2 separate regions of the Homo sapiens genome follow, and region 2 is reported to be linked to region 1. The links are microRNA targets in miRTarBase. Many come from high-throughput screens and were not tested one by one. Region 1 holds a microRNA gene; the other region holds the end of a gene's coding sequence.
What was found. Region 1 holds the annotated microRNA hsa-miR-548m (CAAAGGUAUUUGUGGUUUUUG, at 3,513-3,533, shown strand). A microRNA usually pairs through its seed, bases 2 to 8, with sites in the 3' UTR of a target mRNA and lowers its output. Matches are read on the target gene's strand: a 7mer-m8 pairs with bases 2 to 8, a 7mer-A1 pairs with bases 2 to 7 and ends in A, and an 8mer does both.

Region 2: the mRNA of PRUNE2 is a reported target of hsa-miR-548m. Seed matches in the 3' UTR shown: 7mer-m8 at 4,403-4,409, 8mer at 4,167-4,174, 7mer-A1 at 4,036-4,042 and 7mer-m8 at 3,727-3,733.

The regions. Positions count from the first base shown.
Region 1 is chrX:95,061,348-95,066,724 of GRCh38, reverse strand. MIR548M (microRNA 548m) reads left to right here and starts at 3,499; the gene lies at 3,499-3,584.
Region 2 is chr9:76,610,078-76,615,077 of GRCh38, forward strand. It overlaps PRUNE2 (prune homolog 2 with BCH domain), which reads right to left. Exons shown (of 19, transcript NM_015225.3): 19 at 1,299-4,523. The coding sequence ends at 4,493. The region is part of intron 5 of LOC105376095 (a long non-coding RNA gene); the gene reads left to right. Among named protein-coding and RNA genes, the nearest start is that of PCA3, 150 kb to the right of the region's middle.

The DNA of each region.
Region 1 (5,377 bases):
CTGAAAAAATCCTTTTTTTTCAAGTTATACTATCCTTTTATATATGTTTCTGAATTTTAATAGCTAATATTTTGTTGAGAATTTCTGTATCCATTATCATGAAGGATATTAATATTTTCCTTTTTCAATGTCTTTATGTGATTTTGGTAAAAGAATAATAATGCCATGAAGAAATGAGTTCAAATGTGTTTCTTCCTCTTCTATTTTCTAGAATAAATTTTGTAGAATTGGTAGTATTTCTTCCTCAAATGTTTGGTAGAATTTGTCAGTGAAATCATTGAGTTTAGAATTTTCTTTATTGGAAGGTTTTAAAGTACAATTACAATTTTTTTTTTAAGATTTAGGACTATTTGTTGTTTTCCATTATTGATGAGCTTTAGTAGTTTATGACCATATTACTTTTCTACTGCTGCTGTGACAAATCATCACATTCTTAGTGTCTTGATGCAAATGTATGATCTTACACTTCTGAAAGTCAGAAGTCTGACATGTGACTCATTGGGCTAAAATCAAGGTGTTGTCAGGACTGTGTTTATTTTTATATTTTGGGGGGCTCTAAGGGATAATCTGTTTTTGTTGTTGTTGTTGTTGTTTTTGTTGTTTTTGCTTTTTCCAGCTTCTAATGGCCACTTGCATTGTTTGTTTTCAAGGAAGCCATCTTCAAGTTTAGCTATATCAAATCTCTTTCTGGCTGTCTTCTATCATCACATCTTGTATGTTTTCTACTGCTGCTATAACAAATCTTAACAAACTTAGTGGCATCAAACAATACAAATTAATTATCTCACAGTTTTGAAACTTGGATGTCCAAAGTAGTTCAGCAGCATTAATGGCATTTCTTTTGAATGCTTTAAGGAGAAATTAATTTTCTTGCCTTTTTCAGTTTTTAGAGATTACCTGCATTATTTGGAACATAGTCCTGTATTACTCTGACTCCTTTTTCCGTTGTTACCTGTCCTCCTCTAATGCTAACCCTCCAGTCTTTCTCTTATAAAGACTCTTGCGATTACATAGGGGACATTGGACAATTCAGAATATTCTCCCATTTCAAAATCCTTAACTTTATCACATCAGCAAACTTTGTCTGCTATGTAAGGTAAAATATTCATAAATTCCAAGGTTTAGAATATGTACATCTTTGGGTGTGGACACTGTTCTGCCTACTTTATCTTTCATTCTGACTTTATCCAGGAAATGTTCTCTGCTGTTAAGAATTTATATGATTGGGTTGGACTAAACCAGAAAATCCAGAATAAGTTTTCCATTTCAAGATGTTTCACTTTACTCACACATTCAAGGTGACTTTGACAAGTAAAGTTATAGATTCGTGAGTTCTGGGTATTAGGAAATGAACATTTTTTGAAGAGTCATTATTCTGCTTACCACAGCAGATTTAGAGGAATTGGTCCATTTCATTTCAGTATTAAATTTATTATTATAAAGTTGTTAATATAATTTCCTTATTATATTTTCACATCTGTGGAGTCAATATTGATGTTCATTCTTTTATTCCTGATATTGGTAATTGTGTCTTCTCTCTTTTTATTTTAGTTACTCTGGTTAGAGTTTTAACAATTTTATTGATGTTTTCAAAGAAACATCTTTTTGTTCATTATTTTTTCCTAGTTTTGTTATTTTCAATTGATTTATGCTTTAATTTGTATTATTTACTTTCTTCTGTTCACTTTGAGTTTAATTTACTCCTCTTCTCTATTACTCGGGGTGGCTACTGATTTTAGATTTTTGTTTTGTTTTTTTTCTATAATTATTATTTGCATTCAATTTGCTTCTAAGCACCACTTTAGTGGCATCCTACAGATTTGGATATGTTATATTTTAATTTTTATTCAGTTCAAAATATTTTAATTTCCCTTAAGACTTCCTTTTTGATATATGGATTATTTAGAAGTTTGGCATTTAATTCCCAAATGTTCTTGAATTTTCCTATTGTCTTTCTGTAATGGATTTTTACTTTGTCTAGTCTAGAACACACTTTGTATAATTTCTATTTATTTTAATTTATAAGCTTTCCTTTATGGTTCAGAATATCATCCACCTTTGTTTGTGCCCCATGTACGTTTCAGAAGAATGTATATTCATTCTGCCATTGTTAGGTAGATTGTTCCATAAATATCAATGATAGTGTTGCTCAGAATATATATATATGTGTGTATATATATATAGTTTATATATATCATTATATATTATATATAGTTTATATATATAGTTTTTCTGCCTACTTATTTATCAATACCTTTGAGAAAATTGTTGAAGTTTCCAACTTTAATTGTGGATGTGGCTATTTGTTTTTTCAGCTCTGTGAGTGTTGCTTCATGTATTTTATGTATTTAGGAAGCATGTGCCTTCTTGATGAATTGATTCTTTTATTATTATCTACTATCTCTATTTATACCTGATAACATTCCTTGTTTTGAAGTCCTAAGGGTACAGTTTTGTTGTTCCTCCCTACTGAATATTAAAGCTTTTTTTTTTTCATAAGTGCGTTAAGAAAGATGGGTCTGAATATAATTTCCCCTATCCCCTTCCCCTAGGCAGTATTGTGAAGCCAATTTTCTTGGGATTTTCCCCACTTCCTTGTGATCACCTGGTAAAGTTCCTGATGAGAAAGTTTTCAGCGCGCTGCTAACCCCACTGTATTTACACCATTAAAGACTTTACACTCTAATCCTAGCTCATGTTCTTAGTCTTTAGCAGTTTGTTAAAACTTTTTAACTGCGTCTCCTTCAATGTATAACATTCACTGACATCTTCTCCAGATAAGCCAGTGCTAGAGTCTAATTTTTCCTTGCAGGAGCCAATCTCTCCAAGGTTTTGGGTAAATTGGCCTTTGACTTTAGTTCTCTGATGGGTTCACAAAAAGTCCTTAATTTTCAGTGTTTCTGACATTTCTTATTGTAAGCATAGGAGGTGTAATGTTCTTTTCAACTTTCTATATCTCTGAGCAGAAACCACAAGTGACATTCACCATGTATTACTCATCTGTGTTTTTAGAGAGAGAGAGAGATCTAGTTTTCTTCCAACTTTCTATAATCACAAGCAATGCTACAATAAATATATATTCTCCTATGATCCTATGTGAGAATTCTTCTTGGTTACAGACCCAGGAGAGGTCTGTATTAACCCAGGTTAATAGGTCATAGCATATGCATGCACTTAATTTGGTTAGTTGCTGTCACACTACTCTTCAGAATGGCTGCACATGTCTACATGCCCACCAATGATAAATGAAATCTGATTTCTCATCCTTGTCAATATATAACATTATAAAATTTTCTAATCTTTGCAAATATAAATGGAAAGTGGCAAAGCATTGTTTTAATATACCTTTTATTACTAGTGATTTTGAACATATTTTCTCATGCTTATTGGATATTAGATTTTCCCTTCTCTGACTTGCTTATTCTTATATTTTCTTAAATTTACGATTTTATTTTCTTGTTGGTTCATATGAGTTTTTTTTGTTGGTGTTTATTCTAGATATTAGGTTGGTGCAAAGGTATTTGTGGTTTTTGTCATTAAAGTAATGCAAAAGCCACAAATACCTTTGCACCAACCTAATATTAGCCCCTCGGAATTATAGACATGGCAAGTATCTACTATCAGTAAGTTGACTGGAGTAATTTACTACCCTGAAATATTTTATCTTGATATAGTCAATGCATAAAATTTTGTCTTACAGTTTGTGATTTGGGGACTTTAAGATGCTTTTTCTTATCTCTAGGTTGAACAAATTATAAGACTTTTTTTGACAACTAAGCAACATTTCAAATCTTATCACCAATGTTTTACTTAGTATAAATTCAAACATGTAAATTAACCTTAATTTTTGAGACTAAGCGCAAAGAGTACCTTAGCAATGTAGTATAGTATAACATAAAGAACACTGGACTAGAAGTTGGAAGACCACAGTTCTTCTTTCACCTTTACCATTTAGTAGCTGTGATCTTGGTAAACTCATAGCCTCAATGAACTTGAAAATATTTGATTGGGAAAGCGAGGATAATACCATTACCATCAGGTCTGCCTTAGATTACTATAAGCGTTAAATGAGATAATTATTTTGAAAGTACTTTGAAAGTTGTGTATTGCAATTCAGATATAAAATCATGATGTGGTCAGTGTATATTTTGGTTTCATTTCACTAATGAGATTTTCTGAATCAGTGGTTTTCAGAACACAGCTTCAAATATACTAATAAATGTTTTTGCAAAATGAATTATATGTTCAAATCAGGTTGGTATTTTATTATTTAAGTCAGTTATTTACTGTGGGATTTCTTAGAACAATTACTCTTTTTTAATTTTTTTATTTTTAATTTTCTTGGGTACATAGCAGGTGTATATATTTATAGGGTACATGAGATGTTTCGATACAGGCATGCAATGTGAAATAAGCACATCATGAAGAAGATGGAGAACCATTATTCTTCTAATATGCTTGGAAATTTTTTTAAAGACTCATGCAATAGTATGACTTTTTTCCCCCACAGCTCTTTGCTTATTGGGTCTTTTTTCATGGGATACCTACGAATATGTCCCTGAAAATATTTTAAAAATGCAAGTTTGAGAAAATTTTATTCACTTAAAAGAACATGAGGCTTTTCATATTCCAGTTCTGTTACTTATGTAAGACTCTGGGAATGGTACTTAACCTCTTTGAGTTGTACTTTATTCAGCCTTAAAAACAGGGATAAATAAGGCTATTGCAAGATAATGTATATAAAAAGAAGTGCCTGGCAAATAGTAGGAACTCAGTAAGTGGTGGTAGTGGTTAGTTTATTTTTTGTTATTTTGATATTATTATTAACAGTATCAATGTAGACACTGACCTCTGATCAATAGCTTGTATTCATTAAATCTCACTTTCCATTTTTATACCCAACAGAATGTCATAGAGGTTGTTAATGTTTCTTTGCACCAAGATATTTAGAGTACCCCTGCTAATATTGTCATTGAAATCGCAGGTGGGCTTGCTGCCACATTCCTTGCATCATTTCAGCCACCAATGAAATAAAAATGGATAGTTTTGAGCTATTTCTGTGGCTCTAATATAAATAAGTTCATAAGGTGGGGAATTCCTTCATCCATAATCCTGTTTTAGAGTGGAGTTTTTATTGTGATATGTGATAACAATAAATATTGGTTTACTTTCCATCCTTCTCATTTATCATCAGCACTTATATCTTCCTTTAAAATTATTTTTCTTTATTCATCACCTCATATGTATGATATACTTTAGTTACCTCACTTAGATTTTGAATTCACCCCACATACAAAGAAATTCACTGAATTTTGTTCAATGAGAAGTTAAATAGCTACTCTTTCTAAGCATTATTTTGGAACTTTTCTAAATTTAT
Region 2 (5,000 bases), not on the chromosome of region 1:
AAAGCCCACAGCTGTGTGAGGATTGATGTGTCAAAAGGCACCAGCTCTGAATTAAAAGTTCCATGACTGCACAGGATGATGCAACCCAGGGCGGGCTTCTGGCACGCTGCAGCACATGGACACAGCCAGCACAGGGACACTGCACACACAAGAGAAGCTGTAGAAGGGAATGGCTCCTCAGGGATCCACAGTGCCCCAACACAGCTTTTCTGTAATCTATGACTGAAAGTCTTGGCTTCCACGACTGAAGTTGTCTTCATTTTATTTATTTTTAACTTCAGCTTATAAAAGGCCCCTTATGATTTTGATTTTTAATTAGGCTCCCAACTTTATCACTGATCTCCATGCCCTACCCTTACCCAAATGAGTGTGTTAAGTCCTTAAATACACATGGATTTTGGATAATACGTAGTTTTGTGTGTGTATGTTTAACAGTTATGTAAGTGGCACTGTGCTATAAACATCGAGTTTGTTCTTTTTCCGCTCTACCCTATGATTTAAGTGTTGCTTTATGAACATATAGTATGTTGCTTCTCACAGCTGTGGTATACTAAAAGGTGTATTCAGCACGATTTACCCAGCCCTTTCCCTAGTGCTGGACACCTAGCCCACCTCCAGTTTCCACCACCATAGTTAGGTACGAGAGCAGAATGAATGTAGCAGTACGTCTTGTAGTTGAATGTCCTTCCTTTGCCTGCAATTACTTGTCAGCCTTTTCTTCTGTTTCTTCCCTTTCTTGGGTAGAGGACAATATCTACCAGAACTCATTTTTAGATCATGAGAACATGCAACGTCTCACTTCTTGTAGAGCAATTTCTCCTTTGGCTAGTCCAACAACTTTCTCAGAGGTACACATGTGTTTATTAAGTTAAAAAAATAGCACAGTGGTAATTCTCAACTCTGGTTTTGCCTGAAGGTTGTGAAAATGGGGAAAAAACCCCAACTAAAAATAAAATGATATTTAAACATTTTAATTTAAAAATAAATATATGCCATAAAAAGGCAAGGGGAAGAGAGAGGAAAAGACAAAAATCAAGTAACCATGAAACATGGAGATGTTTCCAAAGTAAGAAATCGCTTATCCACAGAGTAAACAACAGTTTGAAAGCTCGGTGTATTGAACTCTGAGATAGGAAAGGCAAAAATGAAGAGAGAATAAAGTTTGGGTGTACAGAAAAACCAAAATGTATACAGTCCTCCAGTACCAAGTGCCAAGCTAGATTGATGTTGAGATAAAACTGCTGCAAAGTGAAGCCAGAGAAAAATTCTTGCTGACTCAAAGAAAGAAAACCATCACATGCAGAATCAATTTTTATTTCTGAATTATACAGTGAGGCTATATAGATATATTGTGTCATTAAAGACTTTTATATTATTAATCTACATTATGGAGAATTTATTTACCAAAACGAAGTCTAACAGACACTTTATTCTGAGCAATCCAATGCATGATAGAAAAACCTTTAGATATATAAAAGATTAATTTGTGCACATCTAAATGTTTCTAAGGGAACAAACTACTGAGGCATTGTGATAAGACGAGAGTTGCAAACATAGTACCATAACTGAATATTTAAAATTACATCTTAACAAAGGCTAGGAGTAGTGACTTCCTCACACACCTCAGAGAATGTCTTAGAGAGTAACCCCATAGAACATTGTATGGCTTCAACAGAAACTTCAGGATTTTCTTCCACACTGAGCTACTGCCCTCAAACAAACTTTCTCACTCCTTGACACTATCTTCTGTGCAAATTTCTGTTCTTTCTCTTAATCAAGGAGCTTTGAGAAACAATGCTTTTGCCCCAATGACCCCTTGGTTCCCTTAACTACAGATCTATAGGAGAAATGCAAAGCAGTTCCCAGAAGTCAGAACCAAAGCAAGAATGTTCAGAGTGCAAGAGCTAGAGAGCTAAATCATGTGAATGTTTACCTCTGTCTACCTATCTGCTTAGGGATTATTTTTCTAGGATTCATCTAGGATTCTATTTACTTGGGGTGAATGTACATGGTAGCTTTTCCCTAGCACATGCAATTAAATTAATTTGTCTTTTAAGATAATAAAATAGCAGATACCTAAATATCAGAGTGGTTATGCAGCCTACAGAACAGCTGAAACAAAATCATTGGGACAAATGCCCATAATTTTCATGTAGGAAGATGAGGCTTCAAACAGCATACCACCTGAGTAGTTTTCCATAGATGAGCTGGACAAGTTAAAAATATATATATAAATGGTGAGATTGTTGCTGTGTCTGTTTGGCTATAACAAGAGCCCTCTATGAACAGCTCTATGCCCTCAGGTTTGCACCACTACACTGAACACTGGATTTTTCATTACTTCCTGTGACAGGGTGACCATGGAATTCATTTTACAAAATGGGATGCTACTGAGTGAAAGTAGCAAATAGGTGAACAAACAGGAATATTGGGTAACTGTATTTACGTCAACACTGTGTTCTGGGAGAGGTGTAATTTGGGCTTTCAAAAGTGGAGGTGGGCTGTGGGAGGGGGTGGGCTGTAGGGTTTTTCTGTCCAACAAGCCAGATGTTATGAAGGAGGAGATCCAACAGAACATACAATTCAACAAGATACTCGCTTGAAAGGATCAAGAGGAGAAAAGAGAAAACGATGGAGGCTTATGGAGGAAAGAGGGCTGAACTGCGTGTGTGTGGGCACGTGCGGAAGGACGGGAGGAGACAGAGGTGAAGCAATGAGGTCAGAGAAACTCAATCACCTGTGCAAAGATGTCGACTTTAAAGTAGTTACAAGCTCCTTCTACCCAGGACTCCAAATATCCTGGACAGCTCTCCCCAATGAATTTTCCACCATGAGACTAGGGTGGAACCGCTCTCACCCCTTCATTTTTATTTCTGCCAGCTTCTTTGTAATAGGAGACACTGGAGACTAAGAATGGTTCCCAGAGTGAGGCACGGACTTCAGCCAACACCTGTATATACTAAAGAAGTGCTTCTAAGAAGGCTTCATTTTGGCAATTGCAACCTAAGCAGTGATTTTGTGGCTAGGACTCCTCATGTTTTTCAGCAAGCCATTTCTTTTATTTCACTGTCTGTGGATGTCAAAACATTGATTTTTGACAAAAATAAATTAGTTTGCAGCCTCATTTGTCCGTTCTGTTAGAGAAACTATCTAAATACAAATTGGGGTGGAGTAGGAAAGGATGCGTTTGCTAGAGCAGGGGTCAGCAAACTTTTTCTGTAAACATAGTCAATGTTTTAGGCATTGTGGGACATACGGTCTGCTGAACTGCTCAGCTCTGCGGCTGTAGTGTGAAAGTAGCTGTAGACAGTACAAAAACAAGTTTGTGTGGCTGTGTTTCAGTACCACTTTATTTATCGGCACTAACATTTGAATAATTTTCATGTGTCATGAAATATTCAAAAAAAATTTTTCCAACCCAAAATGTAAAAACCATTCTTAGCTTGCAGTGGTGAGCGAGACTTAGCTGTGGTTTGCCACCCCACCTCACTAGAGGCCTACAGACTTGAAATCTTGTTGGCATTTTAAAGGGCATATGAAGACTATAAAGGAAATATTTTGTACATGAAAGTAATACTCATATTTAATTTTAAGCCTATGATCAGATTACGGTGTTTTAAAGCAGATCACTTTTTATAATGCATGCGAGAGAGGAATTCATGAATAACTGAATGCTACCAAATGATTTTTGAGTAGGCCACCTTGCACTTGAGTTCTTGGCACTTAAAAGGTAACCTCTGGAGCTGAGTTTATGGCCTGAAACTCAGAGAGCTACCAAACATGCAACACGGATTCTTAAATTTCACAATGTGGTGGTCACCAACATTCATCAGGAAAATGATGTTAAAAGACCAATTTACATAAAATATAATGCCCAATTTGACAACTAAAATAAAGTTGACGTGGATTAGAAAGCCCGGCTTCCCTTTGAGAAGTTAAAGGAGATTCTGGTAAACAAGAACAAAACGGGCACTTAGCTGATGATGGTTTTACACCTTGTGTGGTTTGTGGCTGTCCTAGTCAGGCTTAGGATTTTAAAGGTGGAGTCAAACAGGGGAAACTTTCCTGGGGAGAGTTGAGACCTGTGTACTTTAAACCTAATGCAATCACCAAAAGGAAATCCAGCTAATCTATGGAAACAAATCCACTCATACTTAACAGTGGATTAAAGGTATCTTACTGGTAAACACCAGTCTAAGGGACAAAGTATCACTACACCGTGTTAATGAAGTATTGAAATGGAAGGTCCTACTTTCTTGCTAAGGCTCAACTAAAATCTTTGAGGCACATAATTGGCAAAATAGGAAAGTACACACAATTTCATAAAATATCTTAAGAGTAAACAAACTTTCTATTTTTCCCCTTAGAAATTTAGAATGGCACCAGGTAGTGCAAAGTGGAAAAAGGTAACATCAGCCCTGTCTCTTTCAGGTAGATATGTTTCAACAGAACCATGAACCAGAAAAGCATCCTCTTCTTCCAGCATGGCCAACTAAGGCTTTTCTTTCAGCTTCAAGTCAATACTGCAAAGAAAAGAAAAAGAGAGAGAAACATGAGAAACCAAATGAGAGACATTTAGTAATGATTTGGGTAGCACTGTGTTTGCTTTTTTCCTCAAAGGACATACTGAAAATATTTAAATCATGCAAGTTTCTTATAATAGAAAAATCTGGTAAAACCCAATCCTCCTCTTGTCAGGCTTTTCTCCAACATATGAAATCTGTTTAGTTCTACAAAATCGTTTCTGGAAGCATTTTACACCTTTTCAAAATGATCCAGGGAGGTAAAAAACTCATGTAAAGGCTCATTCCCAAAGTCAATTAAGATAAGGAGCATTAGTGTATTCCAGAAATCATGCCATTTTATTTAATAAGTGACCTTTCCTTGTGAAGCAAACAAATGTTCTGCCTCAAGTAAGTAATGTCTGACAAGCACTAAATAGTAAGAAATGGTAAACAACAAAACAACACCAAACATTTTCTAGAAGCCAAAGGAATTGA